Linked DNA regions of Homo sapiens: region 2 is linked to region 1. The links come from fine-mapping of genetic effects on gene expression. A gene starts in region 1. The other region holds a variant in brackets. All regions are shown on one strand. Distances are from middle to middle. Region 1 holds the start of PSD4 (pleckstrin and Sec7 domain containing 4). Region 2 overlaps PSD4 (pleckstrin and Sec7 domain containing 4).

What was found. PIP is the estimated chance that this variant, and not a neighbour inherited with it, causes the effect. A credible set is the group of variants that fine-mapping cannot tell apart.
Region 2: its variant is the best candidate, but not a certain one, in a credible set for the expression of PSD4 in fibroblasts (GTEx, PIP 0.50).

Annotation. Positions count from the first base shown.
Region 1 is chr2:113,168,851-113,181,834 of GRCh38, reverse strand. It overlaps PSD4 (pleckstrin and Sec7 domain containing 4), which reads right to left and starts at 7,864. Exons shown (of 17, transcript NM_012455.3): 1 at 7,781-7,864. It overlaps LOC124907872 (a long non-coding RNA gene), which reads left to right and starts at 6,067. Exons shown (of 2, transcript XR_007087197.1): 1 at 6,067-6,565; 2 at 9,810-10,487. RefSeq lists enhancers at 7,292-7,381, 8,002-8,171, 8,222-8,291, 8,521-9,021, 9,022-9,522.
Region 2 is chr2:113,205,326-113,214,977 of GRCh38, reverse strand. PSD4 (pleckstrin and Sec7 domain containing 4) reads right to left here. Exons shown (of 17, transcript NM_012455.3): 17 at 5,587-9,652. Among named protein-coding and RNA genes, the nearest start is that of PAX8-AS1, 26 kb to the left of the region's middle. RefSeq lists a silencer at 2,492-2,786. The variant G/A (reference allele first, on the strand shown) is at 5,480.

The DNA.
Region 1 (12,984 bases):
CCACTTTCCAAGGCTCCTATCCTTGGGGCCTTACCCTGTTCACCAGGCTGGCTCACAGCCTGCTTCTTTGTCCTTGTAAGCTGTTGGCAGCTTGGAATTTGGCCCAGGTGGAAGCAGCAAGGGGCTCTCTGCTTAACTCAGCCCAAGCCCTCATGAAGGGAGGATGCTTCAGCCCTGCTGCCTACCACCCAGCAGACTGCCTGCTGCATGGGGAGGAGATCTCTGCCTTCTAGGGAGGAAGAGGCTGGGATGTGGCAGCCATGTCTGCCTGGAACTGCCTCACATCTGCCCAGAGCTGCTGTGTGCACAGCCTGCACTAACACTCTGGGTGGGCCCTTATCAGATGAGCCCAGGAACCTCGCAGGGTGTTTTCTAGAAGCATGCATTTCCATCCCCTGCATGCAGCCCACCGCTTACACGGCTCTCAGAGCAGCCCTGCTTCCTCAGAATAGCTGGCTTGTTTTGATCCAAAGCACACTGTGAAGCTTGTAACTTGTTTGTCTCATGGTGCTGGCTCTCCACAAAGTGGAAGTGCAGGGTCAAGTACACAGGTCCTTATGGCATGTCGTAAGCACTCCCCTGGCAGCTGTCTTTTTTTTTTTTTTTTGAGACAGAGTCTCGCTCTGTCACCCGGGTTGGAGTGTAGCGGCACAGTCTTGGCTCACTGCAACCTCTGCCTCCTGGGTTCAAGCGATTCTCCTGCCTCAGCCTCCCGAGTAGCTAGAATTATAGGCGTCTACCACCATGCTCTGCTAATTTTTTTTTTTTTTTGTATTTCTAGTAGAGATGGGGTTTCACCATGTTAGCCAGGCTAGTCTCGAACTCCTGACCTCAAGTGATCTGCCCACCTTGGCCTCCCAAAGTGGTGGGATTATAGGTGTGAGCCGCTGCACCCAGCAGCTGTCTTTTCTTATTTTCCCTTTGCCTCATTTTCTTCACTCACAGATTTCTATCTTGAAGGCTTACGTGCGTGCTTGTGAGCTATATTAGAATATTTTGGGGAGCAAGACTATTAACAAACACACACATGCTCCCAGTTTATAACCACGTGTGACTTCCAGATACCCAAGAACAACAGCCCCTTCCACATGCAGTTAACCATGCCTGTCCCCACCCACCACTCCCCCAACCTCGCACCTGAAAGATGAGCAGTCCCCTGCGTGTCGCTGTTTAACAGATGAGGAAGCCTTAGCCTGAGTCTGGCTTAATGACTCACAGCTGGTGACAGGGGCCGGACTCCGACCCCAGACCATCCACCTTCCGGTCTGCAGCTCTCTCTGCCCTTTCCCTGCTCCAGTATGAAGAGAGTGAGCCCAGGTGGCCTCGTCCAGGGCTCCAGACCTCACACTGAGATCCTCCCACAGGCAGGCTGTAGGACAGGAGCTTGACTGGCATGCAGGGCCCTAACCAGCACACATAACAAACCCATGGGGGTCAGCTCCTCCCTGCCCAGCACTAGAGAACATAAGCTGAATCAATAGCCACATGGACTGCAGCTCAAACCCTCGTCCTGCCACATACAACTGAGTGGATAAGCCTGGAAAGTTCCTTAGCATCTGGGAGCCCCACTGCAGTGGGGAGCTAGGGTTAACGGAGGTGATTCGCGCGGCCTTCAGCCCAGGCTTGGCCCACTGTTAGACACTCAGTAAATGGTAACCCTCAGCGCTCTCTCACGAAGGTCAGGGGGTCCAGCTGTTATTCAAGGTCACCTAGAAAACATTGCTTTGCCCCACGCCTTTTTTCTGGAGGGCACCTGAGAGAAGGAAGGAGGGCCAGTATGCATTTCAGTTTCTTATTCACCTTGAAAGTATCCTTTTTCTAAAAGTGCCTCCAAAAGAAATCTCTTTCTGGGTTTTTACCCCTCCCTCTGACCCAACCCTTGCATTCCTGTTTTAGAATAACAAGAATCTAGACTTGCTGGATGACACCCTCAGGATTCTGATGTTCCAGCCCACCCGGAATGGTCCCTGACCGGCCTTCAGGGCCCTTCCACCTGTTAGTTAAGGCAGCCTCCCCAACAGGCTGACTTTCCGAGAGGAGAGGCCCTTTCTTATGTTTAATCTTGTACTTGATGCTCTGAATCAAATGGACCAGATTTGGTCTCATCAGAGATGTTTGAACCAGAGTGGCTCCATCTTGAATAGGGGCTGGGTAAAATAAGGCTGAGACCTACTGGGCTGCATTCCCGGGAAGCTAGGCATTCTAAGTCACAGGATGAGATAAGAGGTCGGCTCAAGATACGGGTATCCTTAATCCAGCAGCCCAAGCGCTGCTCTGCCTATGGAGTAACCATTCTTTTATTCTTTTACTTTGCTAATAAACTTGCCCTCATTTTATGGATTCACCTTGAATTCTTTCTTGCACGAGATCCAAGAACCCTCTCTTGGGGTCTGGATTGGAATCCCTTTCCATTAACAGTCTTGCCTTTCATTCTTCTCCTATGGATCCAGCCTTCACTCATCATTCTAGGTTCTGCCTCTCCACCTCCCACCACTACCTCCAGGTAACAGGCAGAGGATTTGTATGGTTTACTCCTTAAGTCCATACCACTCTCTGCTCCCCATGCAGCTGCCCATTGTCACCCTCAGTGCTCTCTGGGCAAGAGGCCTGAGACGGTTCTACTTCTAAGGCAGAAGGGATGAGGAGCCTCAGGATCTATTGTCTATACTAGGGAAAACACCCTGGACCCCAAATCTCCCTCCCCAAACCTGCCTGGTGGAGAGCAACCGAGTGTGAGCAAGGAGGTGACTCACCCCACCACATCCCACTGCGCCTCCTCAAGACACCAGCCCATGGGGTATAATAAATGACTAGGAAGACATGTTTATTTAGAGATAGAGGGGAAAGCTGGGGAGAAGCACCTGGTTTACAGGTACCAGAACATAGGACATCCCTAGCTCTACTCAACTGCCTCCCTTCCCAGACCCCAAAGCCACCCTCCACGTCTCTGTAAAGTCCTGGTCTTTGGGCCCAAATAGTTCTCCTGCCATGCAAAATCCCTGATCCCTTCTCCTGTTCTCATTCACCCAACTCCACACATTGTACCTGAATGAGTGCCAGCCTCATGGCCCTATGAGCCCCAGAGCATTTTGCCAGGATAACGCCAACCCACCTTCTCTCACCATCAGTCAACTCACTTGGCAAGAAACGTTCCCGTGCCAATATGGGAATGGGAGTGGGAATGCGGGGCTGGGCCTGCTAGAAAGGACATCCTGAATTTTTCATAAGATGAGAGGAAACCCCACTTGTCTCTCTTTGCACATATGTACTTGCAAATAGATATGTATATGTACATAAAGCAGCCCTCTAGGTACACGCTAATGCTGATACTAGATACAAGTGAGGATTGGACTTGCCTTCCCAGAAAAAAACCAGCGTTCCTTGCTGGGTTTTTTCAGAGGAAAAAAAATAAATACCAGAGGCTGCAGCAGCTTTCCGAGCAAAGAGAAGAGAGCAGATCTCTGGGGCCTGCAGCACCTGAGGAGCCTGGGAGGGGTGGGGGTGAGGAACTGGTCAGTGGAGGGGAGCCCAAGGCAATGGAGACAGGAAGGGTGGAGACAGATCAGGTATTCAGTGGGGACAAGGCATGTAGTTTGACTGGCTGCGACATTTTTTTTTAGACGGTATCTTGCTCTGTCACCCAGGCTAGAGTGCAGTGGCATGATCTTAGCTCACTGCAACTTCTGACTCCCAGGTTCAAGCGATTCTCCTGTCTCAGCCTCCCAAGTAGCTGGGACTACAGGCACCCGCCATCATGCCTTGCTAAGTTTTGTATTTTTAGTAGAGATGGGGTTTCACCATATTGATCAGGCTGGTCTCAAACTCCTGACCTCAGGTGATCCACCTACCTTGGCCTCCCAAAGCGCTGGGATTATAGGCATGAGCCACAGCACCTGGCCGGCTATGACTTTTTAAACCAATTAAACTCAATGTGACTATACTCCACCCCTCGCTTTTACTTTCTGAGCGTTTATCCCGGTGTGTAGTTGCCAGTGTGTTTACCCGCGTGGTTCTAGTTTGCCTAGAAGGTAAGCACCAAGATGGCAGGTTCTTTATGTTTCCTGTTCGCCACTGTGTCTCAGTATGAAAATATTGAATGGCATAGTCACATTATGTAACTGATTTGTCAACCACTCCGACCCACAAGGTCTGGGGGCATACTTTAGTTCAACTGGATTTGAAATTTAAAGATCAGCATTGACTTGAGGGGTTTAGTTCAAGTGGATTAGAAACTTAAAGGTTAGCGTTGACGTAAGAGGTTCAGGCCCCCCTGTGACTTGAGCTGGTGTGCGAACCCAGGTTACAGCTCTCTTAAGCATCATTCTCTCCTCCTGCCCCACTGATCAATTCTCTTGGACATTCCTGAATTCACTTGAGTCACTCAAACTCCTGTACAGCGCCTCCTTGACTGAGAGTCGGCGTTGTAGAACATTTGTGAAAATAAGAGAGGGGATGGCTAGATGAATGGACAGACAAATGGAGAGACACACTGATGGGATGGATCCTCAGAACTCTCCCTCCACAACAACCAGGCCAGAAGACGGGGAAGACCGAGGCTTGGAGAAGAGAATTAGCATCATTATAATATGAAGGCTTCCCCACGGGGGCCAGTCTGCCCATGACCAATCACCTCATCCTCCCCTCTCCAGGAAGTCCAGTGCTCCAAGGGCAGTGCTCCCCCAGAGGTAGGTTCCTACCAGGTCAGCAGCCAAAATGTCCCTGTGGGTCTTGGCTCCCAGGCAGCAACCCGAACAGAAAGGAGGACCCATTCAATTGTCTTGTTTGTGCTCTCCATTTGTGCAGGGGGCACTGTGTAACTGTGTGTTTAAAAGATGTCTTCCTTCTGTTTTTTAATTGCTCTTGCCTGAATGGAAAGGTAGGATGACCTAAAAGGTGAAGTCACCTCCTAAGGCCAAAAAGGCAGTCCTACCGGTCACCCAGGTGAGGGCGGTCTGATCTCAGAAGGGTGGAGGATGGAACTAGCCTTTGATCCCTGAGGTAGGATGGCACCCTCTAGGCAGAGGCAGGCCAGAAACTGGGCAGCAGAGCCCAGGTCTTACGCATCTAAAATTTTCTTGGTTTACTTGTGTTTTTCCACCCCTGGTGTTTAGCAAAATCTCTCTTGAAATCTCCTGTCTGTTATCCCAACCAGAACGAAAGCAGAAGGAAAGGAATTCGCAGCAAAGGAATCGCCACCTGTCACATCAGTTGAGTTCTGTTACCTCTACATTAAAGTGGCCCTTCAGTTTTTCTGAGCTCTGAGGTGGCTCTGAAAGTTTAAGGAGGGTTCAGAGGGGAGGGAGCCGAGGTGGGGAAGAGAGAGCACTGCTCCACTCTGCTGCCAACCAGCCACTCTTCTTGAGCACAGCTGACTACATTTCAGAGAATCTTCACCACGGTGGGGAGGGGGTGTATGTTTCTCATGGAGAATACTGCAAGGGCTAAGCCTTATGTCCCTCTTGTGGGAGGTGAAACACACAGAAAGCAATGGCTGAGGGACTAGAAGGCAGAGTCCCTCCCACCTGCCCCACCCCCGGCTTCAAGGCAATTTCTTTTTGACCCAAGGGGGCAGGAAGGAACCCAGCTGACACCTGGCACCCGGACGGTGCTTTCTAACAGTGAGTTTGTTTTTCACCCTCAGCCTGGCATTGCAGCCTTGTACCCTGGCTGAAGAACGGGGAGACCGGGCACAGAGGCTGGGGTATGAGCCTGCCCTGAGTAGGAAGGTGATGGCCTTGGGTGCCCTGCACTGACCACCCTCCTTTGCCCACTTCAGGGTCATAGTGAAGAATGCAGAGCAGAATCCCATCCTAACTCTACAGCTGACAAGCCATGTGGCTCTGGGTGAAAAACTCCACCTGGTTCCTTTTCTGTAAAATAAGGAACCAAGACCCAATAAAGCTATACTTCACAGGTTTGTTGTAAAGTTGGAATGGGTCTGAGTGCTGGGCCTGGCCCTTGGTGGGTGCTCAGGAAATACCGTGTCCTGCTCAGTTTAATTTTGTTGTTTTGCTGTCCATTTAGAGAAGCCAAAATTAACAAAAACAAACAAATAGCCCTCCTGGTCAGGCTCAGCTCTCAGCCTCCTCAAGGAGTCAGCCCTGAACCTTCATCCGGAGGGTGCCTGTCTCTGTTTCCCTTTTTGAGCTTCCAGACTCAGCAAGCAAACGCTCCCTCCTTTTACCCTGGAAATGTTTTCCCTCCTATGGAAAAGGTATGAAGGCTTCTGGCCGGTCCAAGGACTTAGGAGGTGACCTGTCCTGTCCCTCTGCAGCCCGAGAAGCTGCCGAATTACAGATGTTGCTGCAGGCAGGAACCATGAGTGGAACTCCCTGGCCTGGAGCTGCAGGACAGAGGCCTCTGTCTGAACCTGGGGTCTGAAGCACCGTGAGAGAAATGACTCGAGAAGGCCCCACATCCTGCCCACACAGAAAGAGCCATCATGCAAATTTGCACGCACACACACACACACAGAGAGAGAGAGAGAGAGAGAAGACAGTGCTACTGAAGGCCTGTGGTGAGGCCAGCAGAGGCTCAGGAAGGGAGCAGAGGATGGCGGTCTGAGGTAGGCAGAGAGTATCCAGGGGAGAGATCACGGGGGTAGGGACAGAATGACAAAGGGGACCCAGTACAGCTGCTGCCTGGGGAGGACAAAGACCCCTAGGGGGCTGGGGCCAGGCTGGGCCTCTCCTCCCTGGGTCCTCTCACCCCACATCCCTCACCCCTTCTGTGGGTCTCTCCCCCTTCCCCAACAAAGAGCTCAGCAGCCTGTGTTCTGATCCCCATGCTAGGCGGTTCCTTGTCTGTAGGAGGAGGGGGCCACGGGATGCTCTAGAGTCCTAGGCAGCTGGGAGACAGGCCTGCTTGGGGACCACTTTTTAAAGCTGGTCCAAGGTCCAATGAACGGAGGAGTATTTATCATCAGCTAATGACAGGCCACCCTTCCCTGCATTCTAGCAGAGGAGTGACTTCAACTGTGGAATTTTAGGCCCTGGAATAAGGGGGGAATGGCAGTGTCAGGGGACTTTCCCTCCATGCAGCTACCTTCACTATAACAATAATGACTACAGTGGGCCTTAGTTTCCTACACAGGCACACTTTGAGAGTTCAGTGGTTCCTGTTGCCCATCAGGACAACAGGCCTAAGCCAGAGCTAAACCAGTAAGGAGGGTCCCCTTACCTCTCCTCGAGCTTCTCCAGGATGGTCCTGGAAGGCAAGATGAAGCTGGGAGCCCCCTGATGGCCAAGTTGACTCTGAGCTCCTGCAGCAACCACACCCAGAGCCACCCCCACCCCAAACCCAGGCCTTCCAGACTCCCTCTCTCCAGAGTCTAGGGTCGAGAATCACTTGGGACCTTTGGCCACAAAAGCCCCCACTGGGTACTCAGCCAGAGCAGTCACTGGGGACGCAGTGACACTCACAAGAGGATTAGCAAGGAGCTTCCTTCACCCTTCACTATTGCAGACCTCCAGAGGCTCTGCGGGGAGCCAGGGAAGGGAAACAACAGAGGTCCGTGGGGCCAGGGCAGGGAATCAGAGAAGGGTCAGATGAGGAGGGGTAGGCTGAGGGAGGAGGGGGACGGGACACAGAGCAGGAAGGGGGAAGGAGGGGCCTAGCCTAGCCCAGGCTCATGGCAGGTGCACACGGCACTGCCAGAGCCCTCGCCTCTCCCCTGCCCACCTGCCCCAGCCCCTGCCACAAGGACCCACATGTGACTCTCCACATTCCCTGCTCCCACAGGTTCCACCAGCCCCAACCTAGGCAGACCCACTTAGCTCACCTCCAAAGGACCCAAGAATGGATGGCTTGGCCTGGGCTCCCCAAGAGCACTTCCTGGCTCACAGTCGGCTTGCCCAGTGAATGTGGCTGTGACGGCTGGAGCTTCCGACTTCCGCTCCTCCTCACCACAACACACACCCCTCCTGCTCCCCGCCGCCTCCCCAGGGTTCCCTAGCTGCTCAACACCTCACACTTCCTGCCCACAAGATAAGAGCCTCTCTTCCTAGGCCCAGCGCCTGCAGCCCCTTTCCCCATGCCCCTGCTCCTTGGAGGCCCCCACCCTGCACACCAGCCTAGAAAGAACCTGCCATGGTGGAACTGGCCTCTCCCTGCCATGCAGGGGCCTGGGATTGAAAGGGGAAGGGGCCGAGGCCTGGTTGGTAAGCAGGCCCCACCTCCTTCCTCCCTGCGCTTCTGCCCCAGGTTCTCAGTCTTGCTCTGGCTCTTGGTCCCCTGCAGGGCACCCAGTGAGAGACAGGAGGGCCCTAAGTTGGGCAATTTCTGGTTTTAAAACAAATGACATTTCAATTTTTGTGTGACTATGTCTCATGTCACTGGTAATAATGCAAATGATACAATTGCCTTTTAGTTACAAAGTTTCTCCCAATAGTACCTCAATCCCTCCTCACACCTACTTTATGAAGCATTAATAACCCCATCATACAGATCCGGATCTGGAGGCAAGCTCAGAGATGCTAAGCCACTGCCCAGGGTTGCACAGCTGGAAAATTACAAAGCTGGGGTTAGAATACAGAGCCTGTGACTATATGAACCAAGGGACCTCCATTCCCCGTGGCTGAATTCCCAACACACGTCCTCAGGACACCGGCCGCAGTGTCCACAAGTGTAAGTGAGGCTGGTGGGGAGCGCAAACACCATGCCATTCTCCTCCCTCCACACAATCTACTTCCTCAACATCAATGACCGTCAACTTCTCTGCTGAGGCTCCACCACTCCCACCCTCCCTGAACTCTCGTCTTCATGATTCCAGCTGACCCAGAGACTCCCTCACTTGCATGTCCACACAGCAGTGGGGACCAGCCACCCTGACCCAGAGTTGAGAGGGTCGGGCTCTAGCTCACCTACAGCCGCACCCCTCCCTGCAGGGTACAGAGTCCACAGGAACATACCAACATGGAGCCCGTGCACCCTGCTTCTCCACCACACTCTGCGTGCCCCAGATCCCGAGACTCTCCACTTCTGGGGCCCAAATGGCCTCCTCCCCATGTGGGCACACAGCACCGCTGCCCTATGCAGCCTGAGACTGGGTGAAGCGCTGGCAAGAGTCCTGATAGCAGAGACGGGAGCAGGTAGAGAGAGCTCAAACCTTTGGGCAGGTCACCCACCCACATGCACGTGTGATACAGAGCAGGGTGGGGAAGAGAAAGGGAGGTGGAGCTGTGGCGTGGGCCAAAGGCTGGGGTGGGCTGTGCTGTGGCAGCAACATTCAGAGGCGGCTAAGAATCCTCCTTCAAACCTGGAGCTCCAGGCCATGATGAAAGTGGGAGGTAGGAGAATTAGGAGAATAGACACTTTTTTTTTTTTTGAGACCAAGTTTCGCTCTTGTTGCCCAGGCTGGAGTACAGTGATGCCATCTAGGCTCACCACAACCTCCACCTCCCAGGTTCAAGTGATTCTCCTGCCTCAGACTCCCAAGTAGCTGGGATTACAGGCATGCGCCACCACGCCCGACTAATTTTGTATTTTTAGTAGAGACGGGGTTTCTCCATGTTGGCGAGGCTGGTCTCGAACTCCCAACCTCAGGTGATCCGCCCGCCTCGGCCTCCCATAGTGCTAGATTACAGGCGTGAGCCACCGCACCCGGCAGGACACATTTTATATGACAGTTTGTGAGCTTTAGTCTTAACTTTCATGTATTTGGACATATCAGATGGGGTCCTCCACTCTCCACTTCCCAGGGCTGGCAAATGTTGGGGACATGCTTATCTCACCAGCACTTCAAACTCAATGTTTATAAGGCAAACCTGGTTCCTTCTCTTCTCCAAGCTCTTCTTCCTCATATATTTCAGGTTTTACAACTCTCTCTCTCCATCAAGCTGGGTAAGTCAGAAACCTGAAGTCACCAAGACCTAAATGCAAACCCTCCACTCTGGGCCCCAGCCGCTAGGGGTGTCTCCGGAACATGGCCAAGGCTCAAAGTCAGCACCTGCTCTGTGCAGGCTCTATGCTACAAGCCGCTGACCTATCAGGAATAAAACACATGACCCCTGTGGAAGCTGAAGCAACTCCATCTTGGAAGCTAACCTGCCACATTGACTTAACTGAGTGACCCCAGTTCCAAGGCAGGGCCTCTACAATTTCCAGTTTATCTATTGTTTCCTGTGTAAGAGCAGATACTTACTGTAAGTCCGTAAGTGCTACTCGTAGGTCAAACAACCTTGATGATATCACACTTCAATTGTCTTATAAATCCCATCTGAACCACTCCTACCCTATGGTATATGAGCCCTGGGTTTGGGTGCTAATGCGGGGATCCACCATCTCATCTCATTGCCGCCTGAGACACCTACATGGCTTCTGTTGGAAAGTCCCCTAGCTTTCTCAGCCTCTTTCTTCAACTTCTCAACTTCCTCAGACTTTGGGGTAGGTTTGCATAGGCCTGTCTACTGCAGAACAACTCCTGTTCTCAGGGAGCTTCCAGTCTACTGACAGAGAAAGAAAATAAACAATCGGACTTATGAATCAAACTTTATCATAAATTGTGAAGAATGCCTGGGAAGAAGCAGAGAGAAATAAGAGAGCAGCAAGGGTGAGCACACTGCCGTGGGAATTCGGGAAGGTCTCTGAAGCTGCACCATGTCCTGGTGAGGAGGGTCCAGTATGGAAGGGCATTTTCGGCTTCTAATTCCTTCCCTGAGGTGGGAAATGTCTCCACATTTCCAGGGAATAGAAAGCAAGCCAGTGTGGTGCAGCGCAGTCCCAGGGTCCCAGGGGGTGTGGGAAAAGATGGGGCCAGGAGGGGCAGGGCCAGATCCCACAGGCACCCCAGTGGCAAGACAGGGTGCATTTTTTTTTTTGAGACAGTCTCACTCTGTCACCCAGGCTGGGGTGCAGTGGTATGATCTCAGCTCACTGCAACCTCTGCCTCCCAGGTTCAAGCAATTCTCTTGCCTCTGCCTCCCAAGGAGCTGGGATTACAGGTATCTGCCACCACATCTGGCTAATTTTTGTATTTTTAGTAGAGACAGGATTTCATCACGTTGGCCAGGCTGGTCTCAAACTCCTGACCTCAAGTGATCCACTTGCCTCGGCCTCCCAAAGTGCTGGGATTACAAGCATGAGCCACCATATCCAGCCCAGGGTGCATTTTTGTTTGTTTGTTTTTTGAGATGGAGCCTCACTCTGTCGTCCAGGCTGGAATGCAGTGGTGCGATCTCGGCTCACTGCAACCTCCACCTCCTGAGTTCAAGCGATTCTCCTGCCTCAGCCTTCAGAGTAGCTGGGACTACAGGGGCCCGCCACCATGTCTGGCTAATTTTTTGTATTTTTAGTAGAGACGGGGTTTCACCGTGTTAGCCAGGATAGTCTCGATCTCCTGACCCCATGGTCCGCCCACCTTGGTCTCCCAAAGTGCTGGGATTACAGGCATGTGCCACAGCGCCTGGCCTTGTTTGTTTGTGTGTTTTTAAGATGGAGTCTTGCTCTGTCTCCCAGGCTGAAGTGCAATGGCGAGATCTTGGTTCACTGCAACCTCCACCTCCTGAGTTCAAGCGATTCTACTGCCTCAGCCTCCCGAGTAGCTGGGATTACTAATGTGTGCCACCACACCCAGCTCGTTTTTGTATTTTTAGTACAGATGGGGTTTCACCATGTTGGCCAGGCTGGGTCTTGAACTCCTGCCCTCAGGTGATCCGCCCACCTTGGCCTCCCAAAGTGCTGAGATTACAGGCGTGAGCCACCATGCCTGACCCCCAGGGTGCATTTTTAAAGCAGAGAAATGACAGGTCAAAGAGTATTTGTGTATTTACTTTTAAGATCATCCATCTGCTATATGGAGAATAGATGGACCTGTCTGCTGTATGGAGAAGAGATGGTAGAGGCTACGTAAGTTCAAGGAGACCAGTCAGGAGGCTCTGTGAGAGTCCAGGCAATGGGGGAGAGTGGCTTGGCTGGGGCAGTCACGGCAAAGAAGAGAGGCATAGGGCTGGGAATGCATATGGGGGATGATTATAGAACCTGCTCTTTCATTATATTCGAGGGGACAAGATGGGAGGGGAAGTCATGGGCAACTTCCAGATTTCTGACTTAAGCAACCAGATGGGCAGTAATAATGGCATTTCCTGAAATAGGAAAGAACTGGGAGATGAGGCTCAGGGGAGAAAATCCAGAGTTTAACTTTTATTTATTTATTTATTATTTATTTATTTATTTATTTATTTATTTTGAGATGGAGTTTCGCTCTTGTTGCCCAGGTTGAAGTGCAATGGTGCTATCTTGGCTCACAGCAACCTCCGCCTCCTAGGTTCAAGCGATTCTCCTGCCTCAGCCTCCCAAGTAGCTGGGTTTACAGGCATGCACCACCACGCATTTTGTATTTTTAGTAGAGACGGGGTTTCTCCATGTTGGTCAGGCTGGTCTTGAACTCTCGACCTCAGGTGACCTGCCCACCTTGGGCTCCCAAAGTGTTGGGATTACAGGCTGAGCCACCATGCCCGGCCCAGAGTTTAATTTTTAAATATTGGATTTGAACTACCTGTGAGATATTTCAAGTAGGCAACTGAAAAACGCACCTGGAGCCCATCTGAGCTTGGAGAGAGAAGGTGGTGCCTACCTGGGATGGGAGGGGACAGGTCTGCAAAGGAGACTGAAAAGGGACTGTCACAAAGGTGAGAGAAGCAAGGGGAGAGCCATGTTGTCACAGAAGACAAGAGGAGGTTACTTCAGACGGAGGAAGTGGTTGGCTTGGTTGATTGCTGCTGAAAAGTGGAGGAGATTAGAAGCGAAAGTGATCTATATTGAACATGGCCAGAGGTTATGGACAAGTGGGGTTGGCAGCAGATGCGGAGGCAGAAGCCAGGAGACCAAGAGGTGAAGTGTCACCTCCTCAAGTTCGGGCTCTGCCCCGTCCCGTCCAGACTTCCTGGTAATCCATGGTTTCCTGAGGCTGAAAGGGAGGCACCAGTGATCTTCCCCCTTCCCCAAGTCCAGGCCTGCCGCTTGGCTTAGTTATGGGTTCCCATCCTC
Region 2 (9,652 bases), 35 kb before region 1:
GCAAGAGGAGTTAGTGAAACCTACTGGAAGTGGAAGCAGGAGCCTCCAAATAGAAACAGAAAGACAGACAGGTTGAGGCTGTTGCTAAGATCTCCCCTCTCCCACCTGCCCTCACCATCCTCCCACTTCCACCACCCAAAATACACACACCTTTCCCATCCATACCAACATGAGGCTTCCTGGCCAGGCACTGTGGCTCACGCCTGTAATCCTAGCACTTTGGGAGGCTGAGGCGGGTGGATCATGAGGTCAGGAGTTTGAGACCAGCCTGGCCAACATGGTGAAACCCCGTCTCTACTAAAAACACAAAAATTAGCCAGGCATGTTGGCGCATGCCTGTAATCCCAGCTACTCAAGAGGCTGAGGCAGGAGAATCACTTGAACCCTGGAGACGGAGGTTGCAGTGAGCTGAGATCGCACCACTGCACTCTAGCCTGGGTGACAGAGCAAAACTCTATCTCAAAAAAAAACAAAAACAAAACAAAAACCCATGAGCCTTCTTTAAGATAATTCACACTTCCTTGTCCTCTGGGGGTGGGCACCAGAGGAAGGGGACTGCAGACCTCAACGCCATTACTACTGGGCCTGGGCGTCAGCATCAGTCCTGTCAATCAGGACTGAGGGAGGCCGCGGGGAGGGAGGGATTGAGCTCCCTCCTAGGCAGCTCCTGCACCCACAGCTTAACAGCATCTCTGTCCTGCCTCAGCCTCAGAAGTGGTAATAACCCTCTCCACAGGCTTAGTTTCTTTTTCCATACAAAGCCCATTCACATCCATTTACATCTCTGATTCTGAATATTGGCCCCCTTTTATTTTGCACTTGGGGAATCTGAGACCAAGAGATAACTTGACTTTTTCAAGGTCATTCAGCGAGTCAGCAGAGGAGCAGGGACCACAGCCTTACCCCTAATCCAAGGCCTAGTCTGCATCCTATTGTCAGGCCTCAGATATCTGGATATGGCCAGGCTTCTGAGAGATGTCAGACACTCTTTGCTTTGCAGGGAGGGGCGGCAGAAGTCACTTGGCCAGTTGGGGCACAGTGACTTCTGCTGCCCCTCCCTGCAAAGCGTGACTGGACGCAAGGCCCAGAGCTCAACTGAAGAAGCACTGGGACCAGGCAGATTTGTGCCAGGCTGATCTCAGACTTCCCTCCATCCTTGGCCCTAAATCTCCCTTCAGGGTGCCCTTTGGCAGCCCCTCTCTAACCTTTAAGGTCATAAAGCCTTCCATGTTCCATAAAGGAGCTGGTGGCTCCTCTGCCCCAGGCTGCTGTGCTACCTTCTGACGCCAAGTGACCGAGCCGCCATGGCTATGGTTCTCATGGAAGAAACTCCCTCTCTCTCACCTCTATCTCCTTCCTTTGTTCACTTCTTCTAGTTTTCTAGTTTTTTTCCTTTTCTACTGAGTCTACAGCAATTATTCCTTTCCCGACTGTTTGAGAGACATTCGTGTCTCCAGGGCTATGAATGAGGGAAAGAGACAGGGAATGTTTGGGGAGAGCTCGGAGTCCCTGACCTCCTCAGGAAATGCCAGGAAGCATCCTTCCTCCCTCTCTCCAGTGCCCTCTCACTATCACCTTCTCCCCATCACCCTCTCCCCTTCTCCCTCTCCCCATCACCCTCCCCTCTTCTCCCTCTCCCCATTACCCTCCCCTCTTCTCCCTCTCCCCATCTCCCTCTCCCCTTTGTCCTCTCCCCATCGCCCTCGCCCCATGGCCCTCTCCTTGGCTTCTTGCTCTTCTCATTACTGTCTACAGCTCCTGCGGCTCTTTGGGGACCACTGGGACACAGACGCTGGAGGTCATTACCTCCTGGGTGGCAGACGCCTGTCCCCACGAGTCCCCACTCTCATAGGCACACACCACTGTCACCAACCCCATCCCTACATCTCCATGCCCTTCACATAGAAGGAGGGTGCCTGGTTCTCCTTCCTGCAAGAAGCTGGAGCAGGCAGACAGGGCGGACAGGTCTCTCCTTCCCCTGACCTCGCTCTTTCTCCTACCCTTGAGAAGCAGCAGGGGCTAAGGCCCACGGTGGAGGGGCTCAGGCCTCCTGGAAGGTGGCAAGAGGGGCTTTGGATGGGGAGGGAAGGGGAGGTGGGGGACCCAGCTCCTTGGCATCTGTGCCCGGTGGCAGCCAGCCAGGCTGTGGAGGGAAGCGCTGCCTGCGGCTCTCCCGGGGAAATGTGATTTCCCCCTGAGTGAAGCGGACTGTGCAGTGTGGAAATTGGCTCTTTTCTGAGCGAGCTGCTGCTGTTGCTGCAGAGTCGGGGCGGGCCGGCTGGCCCCTGGAGTGAGCCGGGAGCAGCCATGTGCTGAGAACTCATTAGGGATAAATCAAACTAGTAACAGCATGAAGCCAACACCCCCCCACCGCGCCTCCCTCCCCTACCCCCTCCGAGACCCCCCCACTTCCCCTCCTCCTCCATGGTCTTCTTCCCGTCAGACTCTCTCCTGCCTTCTCCACAGCCAAGGCACCCTCCCTGAAGCCAAGGCACCTCCCCCAGACAAGGCACCCTCCCCTCCAGTTTCAGGAGCCCGAGCTCCTGCTCCTGAACACGACCTCGTGGGCGCAGGCTTATCCGCCTACTGCCCAGACGCCCGGAGCCGCCCCAGTGAGAGACAAGTTCATTTATAAATACCGTCTTTTTTGTTTGTTTTATGTTTGTTTGCTTTTTTTTGCTGGAGATGGGGGCCTGGTAGCAAGCTTCACTGACAGCCACAGACAGCCCTTGCTAGGAGCACAGATTGGGACCTCACAGTCCAGGCCCTCTCATCCTCCCCCCAAAGTCACATCATTCCCCTGTCCTCACCTCCTAGAGGAACCCAGTGGGGAGGCCCCCAGCTGTGGGTAGCATTAATACCCCCACATATATCCATCCCCCTGGGGAAATGAGAGCACCCAGAAGACTTAACTGCAGCGGGAAAGAAATTATCCTTAAAACAGATGAGCTTGGTCAGAATGGAAACTCATTTCCCCACCGGAGGAAAACAAGGAAGAGAAACAGACAAGGAGGAAGAAAGAAGGCAGGAACAAGGCCTGGAGCTCTTGTCGTCATGAAGGTGATGAAAGTGTTTACTTGCAAAGTATAGCCATTTCTTCCCTAGAAACACCCTCTTTGCTGAGGCAGCGGGAAAGGGTCGGCCTGGTCTGTTATTCCAGGGGCTGAACTGGTTGGTGTTATTAAACTTTTGTTAGTTATCATATCATAATAACACGGCCCCTGGTTATTGCCTTTGTTTTCCCCCTGGGAGAGATTGGCTGAGGGATATTGCTAAAAGGGCCCAGACCTGGAGTGTAGGGTTGTGACCGGATTTCTGTCCCTTCCCTTCTGGCGACCCCAGGAGACTGCTCACTTACCTCAACTGTAAAATGCATGGCTTGAGCCAGAAAAATGTCCAGCTCAACGCTGTGACGCAGTAGTGACCCAGGTCAGTGACAAGCATTGAGGGCCTCATCTGACTGGTTTAGGTATGAAGCCCTCTTTCTCCAAAGTTTCCCCGGGAATTTTCCATCAGGCAAACACCATATTTCCATATTTGGAATCTGCTCTGTGTTTGGGGTGGGAGTGGCTCGGCTTCTGGTGCCCCACCCTGCCTGATGGGAGCTTGGGTCCTGACTCAGCTTGCCGAGCTAAAGCCAGGCTTCCAAAAAATTCCAGGATGGGGCAGAAACCAGAGGACAGCCAGCTAGCCACAGTTAGTATAGGCTGGGGCATGAGGATTCTGCTATAGCCCTTACATTAGTTGATTCACTCATTCATTCATTTATTCAGAAGTCTTTTATGAACTACCTGCTATGAACGTTTCCCTTTGGTAGGCACCAGGAGAAAACAAGATGAACCCAAAAGGACTCCTCCCAGCTCCCAAGGGGAAAAAAAACAAAAACAAACAAACGAACAAAAAACAGCTTAAGAAACGAGACTTGTACAGAACTATAGAGCAAAGTGGGAAAGTGAACATCAGAAGACAGTTGCACATAAAATACAAAATACTGTTGGTTTTCAGATAATACTTGCAAAATCCCTCATGGTCATCCCAGGCCTCTATCTGGGATCACTGTCTTCTCCAAGAAGCAGCCACTAGGAACAGCAACTGCAAACTCTAACCCTCAAGCCTGAAGTCCGACCTGTCTTCCTGGAAAAAGGCTGCTCCCCTGGCCTCCTATGCTTCTGTGTCTGGGAGGAGTAAGGCGGTGCTGGGCAAGGAAGAAATGAAACATCATCAGCATCCTTTCCCAAATACCCTCTCACCCCATTCCAACCGCCGTCTTCCAGACTTGCCCCAAACCTATCTAACCGGACCACAAGCCTAGAACCAGAAGGCCTGGGTCTCTCTCTGAGCTGCTGCTTTGTTCTTACACCTGGGTGGGGAAGGGGGCAGTGGGTACCCAAGGCCTGAAAACAGACTACAGGCTGCCCCTCCCTGCACATCTGGCTGGTCCCCTCCTTCCCATCTTGATAGCCCCCTGCACCCAGGGTGGACCAGCCCAGCTCCTCAACCACAGGTTGGAGGACTAGAAAAGGGAGAGAAGGGTCCAGGGTGGGGAGAGTGGGAAATGGCAAGCAGAGGAAAGGAGAGGGCCAGGGACATCACCTGGCTGTGAGTTCTAGGACTGCTGGGGGAGGTGACAGTGATACAGGCTTTAGGAACAGGCCTCACCTCCATGATCCCTATGATGCATACACATTTTCTCAGAGGTCTACTTGGAGGATGGAGGGAGGGGACTTTAGAGGCTGAAACACAATGATGGGGGGATGCAGTACCCAAATGTCCCAAGGAAGGGAGGGAAAGTAGAAGATAGGGAGTCAGAGAAGCGGGGAGCAGGTGCCTCCTCCCAGCAGCCAGCCCCAGGGAGGGAATGGGGGTGGACCCAGACCCGGGCCAAGGCTCAGGGCCCATCTGAGCATGTCGCCTGCTAAGGAGGAGTGGAGGCGGGGGAGGGGAGGGCGGGGAGGTGAATAAATAATAGGAAATAAAACTTCATGAAGCAGAAAATAAAAGGCAGATTATACAGATGTGGCAATTTGAAGGATCATTGCCTCTGTCCTCTTTTTAACTGCTGCATCTGGAGTTTCGAAGCGGCTTATCCTCTCCCTCCCTCTCCCAGGTCCCCGCCTGGCTGGAGGCCCCCACAGGGCCAAGGCACGTGTGGGGACAGCACCTCAAACGCCTCAAATGCCAGTGGCATTTCCTAGCACCACACGCGGCTGCCCAGCCTGGGACGGGCTTGCAGGGCGGTGGGGACAGTGGGTGAAAGGGTGGGCTGGGTGATTGGGGTGAACCTCTGAGCAGGTGTGGGTGTGGCTGGGTTTGTGAGCGAGTATGAGCTTGGTATGAGGACCAGGTAGACTGTGGGGAGTGAATCTGTATGGTTAGGAGTGGGGTAAGGATTCGTCAGGCATGAGGAAGGGGACACTGGTCTGGATGACTATCGGTGGGAGAATGAGGCCTAAGTCTCTGCAGCTTCTTTCTGCTCTTC[G/A]TCAAAATTCATGTGTTAAGCCTCAATTTGACACTGTGCCAGGTGCTATATAAACAGACATGGTCCCTGCCCTTAAGGAATTTCCAGCCTAAGACACACACACACACTGACATTTTGTTTATTTTATTTTAAATATTAATATATTCCTCACCTTGTTCTGGGGAGGATTTGAGACTGCTCATATGATATGCATGCCATAAATTAGTAAAATGCAATAAAAAATAAAGCATCAGACCACAGAAACTATGCCATGGGTGGTATAGCAGGCCGTAGGCGGCTGTAAAGTTGATCCGGAATTGGCCTTCAGTCTCTTAGTGGTCAACTGAAAGGGTGTTGTGGTCACATACATGGCTCTCATTCACAAGAGGGCAATGTACCAGCTCTTAGAAGAAGCAAAACTTTTTCTAGTACTTGACTCTAAGGAAAATTACCCACCTCGGCCCAGATGAAAGAGACTAGCGTGGATAATGTCCTCAAAACATGGCAGCAAATTCAGGCTCAGTTTCTCTGGGCTGTGTCCTGCAGGAAGATCCAAGGTGGTCACCCTCAGCCTCTGCTCAGTGAGAGCACTGAAATCCACACTCCCTTGAGCAAAGAAACGATCTGTATGTTTCAATTCTTTCTTCAGCACTGGGATTTCTTTCAAGTGGGTTTTCATATACAGATTAGCCCATGACCATGACTAGAGGCTCAGAGGAAATACTAGTAACTGAAGTCACAATTCCTAGCTGGGTCCAACTCAGGGTCAGAGCAGCGAATGTGGACATGTAGAGGGAGGAGGCCAGGAGTGGTGGGCAAGACTGTCAGCAAGCCTGCACAGGGAAAGCATCTCTTCTGTGTCTGGGTACCTCCTCCTGAACCTGTGTCACACCACAGAGGAGGACAAAGAAATAAGAAAACCAGAGGCTTCTACCCTGATTGTGAGGCAAAGGTCCATCCATCCGGGTCACATCTCTGTATGTATCCTGGTGTGTGATCTTTCAAAGCAAACGGATGACCTCAAGCCATCGCAGAATCACTCACAGAAACAGAGGAGTCAGGAGAGGACTAGTTTGCAGGAGATGACACCGAGTGTGGTCTTACAGGTAATATAGTAACACCTGTACCGTATGGTCATTTGTAATTTCAGGAAGATATATTGAGGAGCCATGTATTGTGGACAGTTAGAATTCCAGGTCTGAAATTCAGAACAGAGATGAGAGTTGAAGGCTTAGATTTAGAGACTTCTTCCAGAAACTATCTTGAAAGCCCAGCAGTCAGCCAGGTAAGATCTTTGAGGCTACATAGTTTAGGGGTGGGAAGAGCAAGAGGGAGTAGCAGGAAAGACAGAAAAAGAATATGCACCAGTACTTTGGGAGGCAGAGGCCGGCGGATCACGAGGTCAGGAGTTTGAGACCAGCCTGACCAACATGGTGAAACCCCATCTCTACTGAAAATACAAAGATTAGCTGGGTGTGGTGGTGCATGCCTGTAATCCCAGCTACTCAGGAGGCTGAGGAAGGAGAATTGCTTGAACCCGGGAGGCAGAGGTTGCAGTGAATTGAGATCGTGCCACTGCACTCCTGCCTGAAAAAGAATATGCAAGAAAGTAGAAAAAGAACCAGGACATAGTTTTGAGATGTGCATTCTTTCGACTCTAGATATCAGGCCCTGGGGAAGCAGTGGAAATCAACAATCCCAGTTCCTGCCCACAGGGAGTTTATGTTGCTCTGGAAGCAGAGAGGCAAAAAGAAATGAAGAGGGCCGGGGCGTGGTGGCTTACGCCTGTAATCCCAGCACTTTGGGAGGCTGAGGCAGGCGGATCACAAGATCAGGAGATTGAGACCATCCTGGCTAACACGGTGAAACCCCGTCTCTACTAAAAATACAAAAAAATTAGCCGGGCATGGTAGCGGGCGCCTGTAGTCCCAGCTACTCGGGAGGCTGAGGCAGGAGAATGGCGTGAACTCGGGAGGCAGAGCTTGCAGTGAGCCGAGATCATGCCACCGCACTCCAGCCTGGGCGACCGAGCAAGACTCCATCTCAAAAAAAAAAAAAAAAAAAAGAAGAGGAGAGAGGAGAGGAGAGTTACAGAGTTTCATGTAATAGAAACTGAAGGAGGAAGACTTAGGGAAGGCCTCTTGGAGGAAAGGGCATCTGCATATTAGTCGGTTTTCTCCCCATCATCCATTCCTCCTATCCTGTCCTTCCAGTACTCACAATTTCTCCACAGCTGGTCCCTATGTTTTGGTGGTGCTGACTTCACTCTCATCCTCTCCAGAAGTGGACTCTGATCTCCTTAAACCCCTGGCTCTAGTGACTGGCTCAGATATGGGCACACGGCCCAAGGCAGGCTGCTACAGGAGACTATTCCTGGATTTGAGTTTGAAACTTCCAGGAAGCAGAGAGTCACTTTCTGCTATATTTGCACCAAGAAAATGGATCTTGAGAGTTCCTGGGGCCATCTTGGAAGCATGAGGGTTGTTCCTGCTCATAGGCCTGGGAGATGGAGCCCCCAAAAGAACAAGAGAGAAAAGGGGCCTTGAATCAGAGTGAAGCCCGAGATGAAGCCTCACCTGACCTGGATACAGATTATTCAGCTATTGGAGCCAATCAAAGTCCTTTTCTGCTAAAGCTCATTTGAGCTCAGATTTGTTATTTGCAGGCCAAGGCAGAGCCAAGTGCAAAGCTACCCAGCATCCAAGCAGGATGGCATGCATGAGGGCAGAGCCTAAGCCAGAGCCCAAAGGAGGAGGGGAGCAGACGTGGGGTAAGTCTGGTGAGGCTATGAATTAATAGCTAACCTCACAGGTGTCCCTTCTGTGCCAGGCATTGTTCTGAGATGTTTACGTGCATAATTTCACTTAATCTTCATGAGGACCTTGTGACATAAGTAGTGTTATTATCCCCATTTTATAGAGAAGCAAACAGAACATAAGAGGCTAACTGGCCACGGTCAGATGGCTAGAAAAGCTGGACTCAATTCCCGGCAGTCCCACTCAAGGGCCTGGCCACTGGGGCAAGATCAGGCTGAGCCTGGGTGCAGGGTCTGGTAGATGATCACATAGCTATCAAGGCCAAAGGTCGCTGAGAGGTGATGGCGGAAGAAGGCTGAGAAGGCATCAGAGTTGATGACTGCAGCCATCAATTGCCCTAGGAGGTGCCATTTCAGGCAAAGGTGGGGTGGACGCCGATTTGTAAGGTGTGAATTAGAGCCAGGTATGAATGGGAACCTGGTAAGGGCTGGGAACAGTTGGCAAAGCCCACACATACCGTGAATTCATCACAGAAAGCAGGGAAGCCAGGGTCAGCTATGGAAAGCAAGAGAGTCTAACACCAGCTTTGATTTTTGCTCATGATGGTGTTTGCAAGGCATGATAATGAAGGGGGTAGAGAATAGGCTCAAAGAGCCCCAGTGGGCCCATGAAGGAGAGAGGTCTGTGGCAGGCAGGAGAAGAGGAGCCAGTGTGCCGGCTGAGGGGAACAGTTGGTCACAGGCTTGTGGAGAGCACCTCTTCCTCTGGAGAAGGGAAAATGAAGGGAACAGGTAAAGGTGCAAGCCACAGTTAGCTGGTGAGGGGGCATGGGCATCAGAAAAGCTGAGGGGCAGAGGTGTTGGCAGAGGGGCCAGTGGGGAGGACAGTAGCCATTCAAGAAACCTTGAGGATCTGTGAGCATGCCTGCTCAGCTCAGCAGGAGGAAAAAGGACCTGCTACGGCCAGGTTTTCACAAGGTTCTGGGATATTGCCTTTTTTTCTTTTTGTATTTATTTTGAAATAATTTCAGATTTACATATAAGTTACACAAATAGTACAGTGCATTTGCAGGCCATATTCTGACCCTACCCATTGGCCTTACTTTTTCAAGGCATTTCATCTTTTTTTTCTTTTTCGACAGAGTCTCGCTCTGTTACCCAGGCTGGAGTGCAATGGCGCAACCTCAGCTCACTGCAACCTCCGCCTCCTGGGTTCAAGCCATTCTCCTGCTTCAGCCTCCTGAGTAGCTGGGATTATAGGCATGTGCCACCATGCCCGGCTATTTTTTGTATTTTTAGTAAAGACTGGGTTTCACCACGTTGGCCAGGCTGGTCTCGAACTCCTGATCTCAGGTGATGCGCCCGCTTCAGCCTCCCAAAGTGCTGGGATTACAGGCATGAGCCACCGCGCCCAGCTCATCTTCTTAAAACAAAATCCC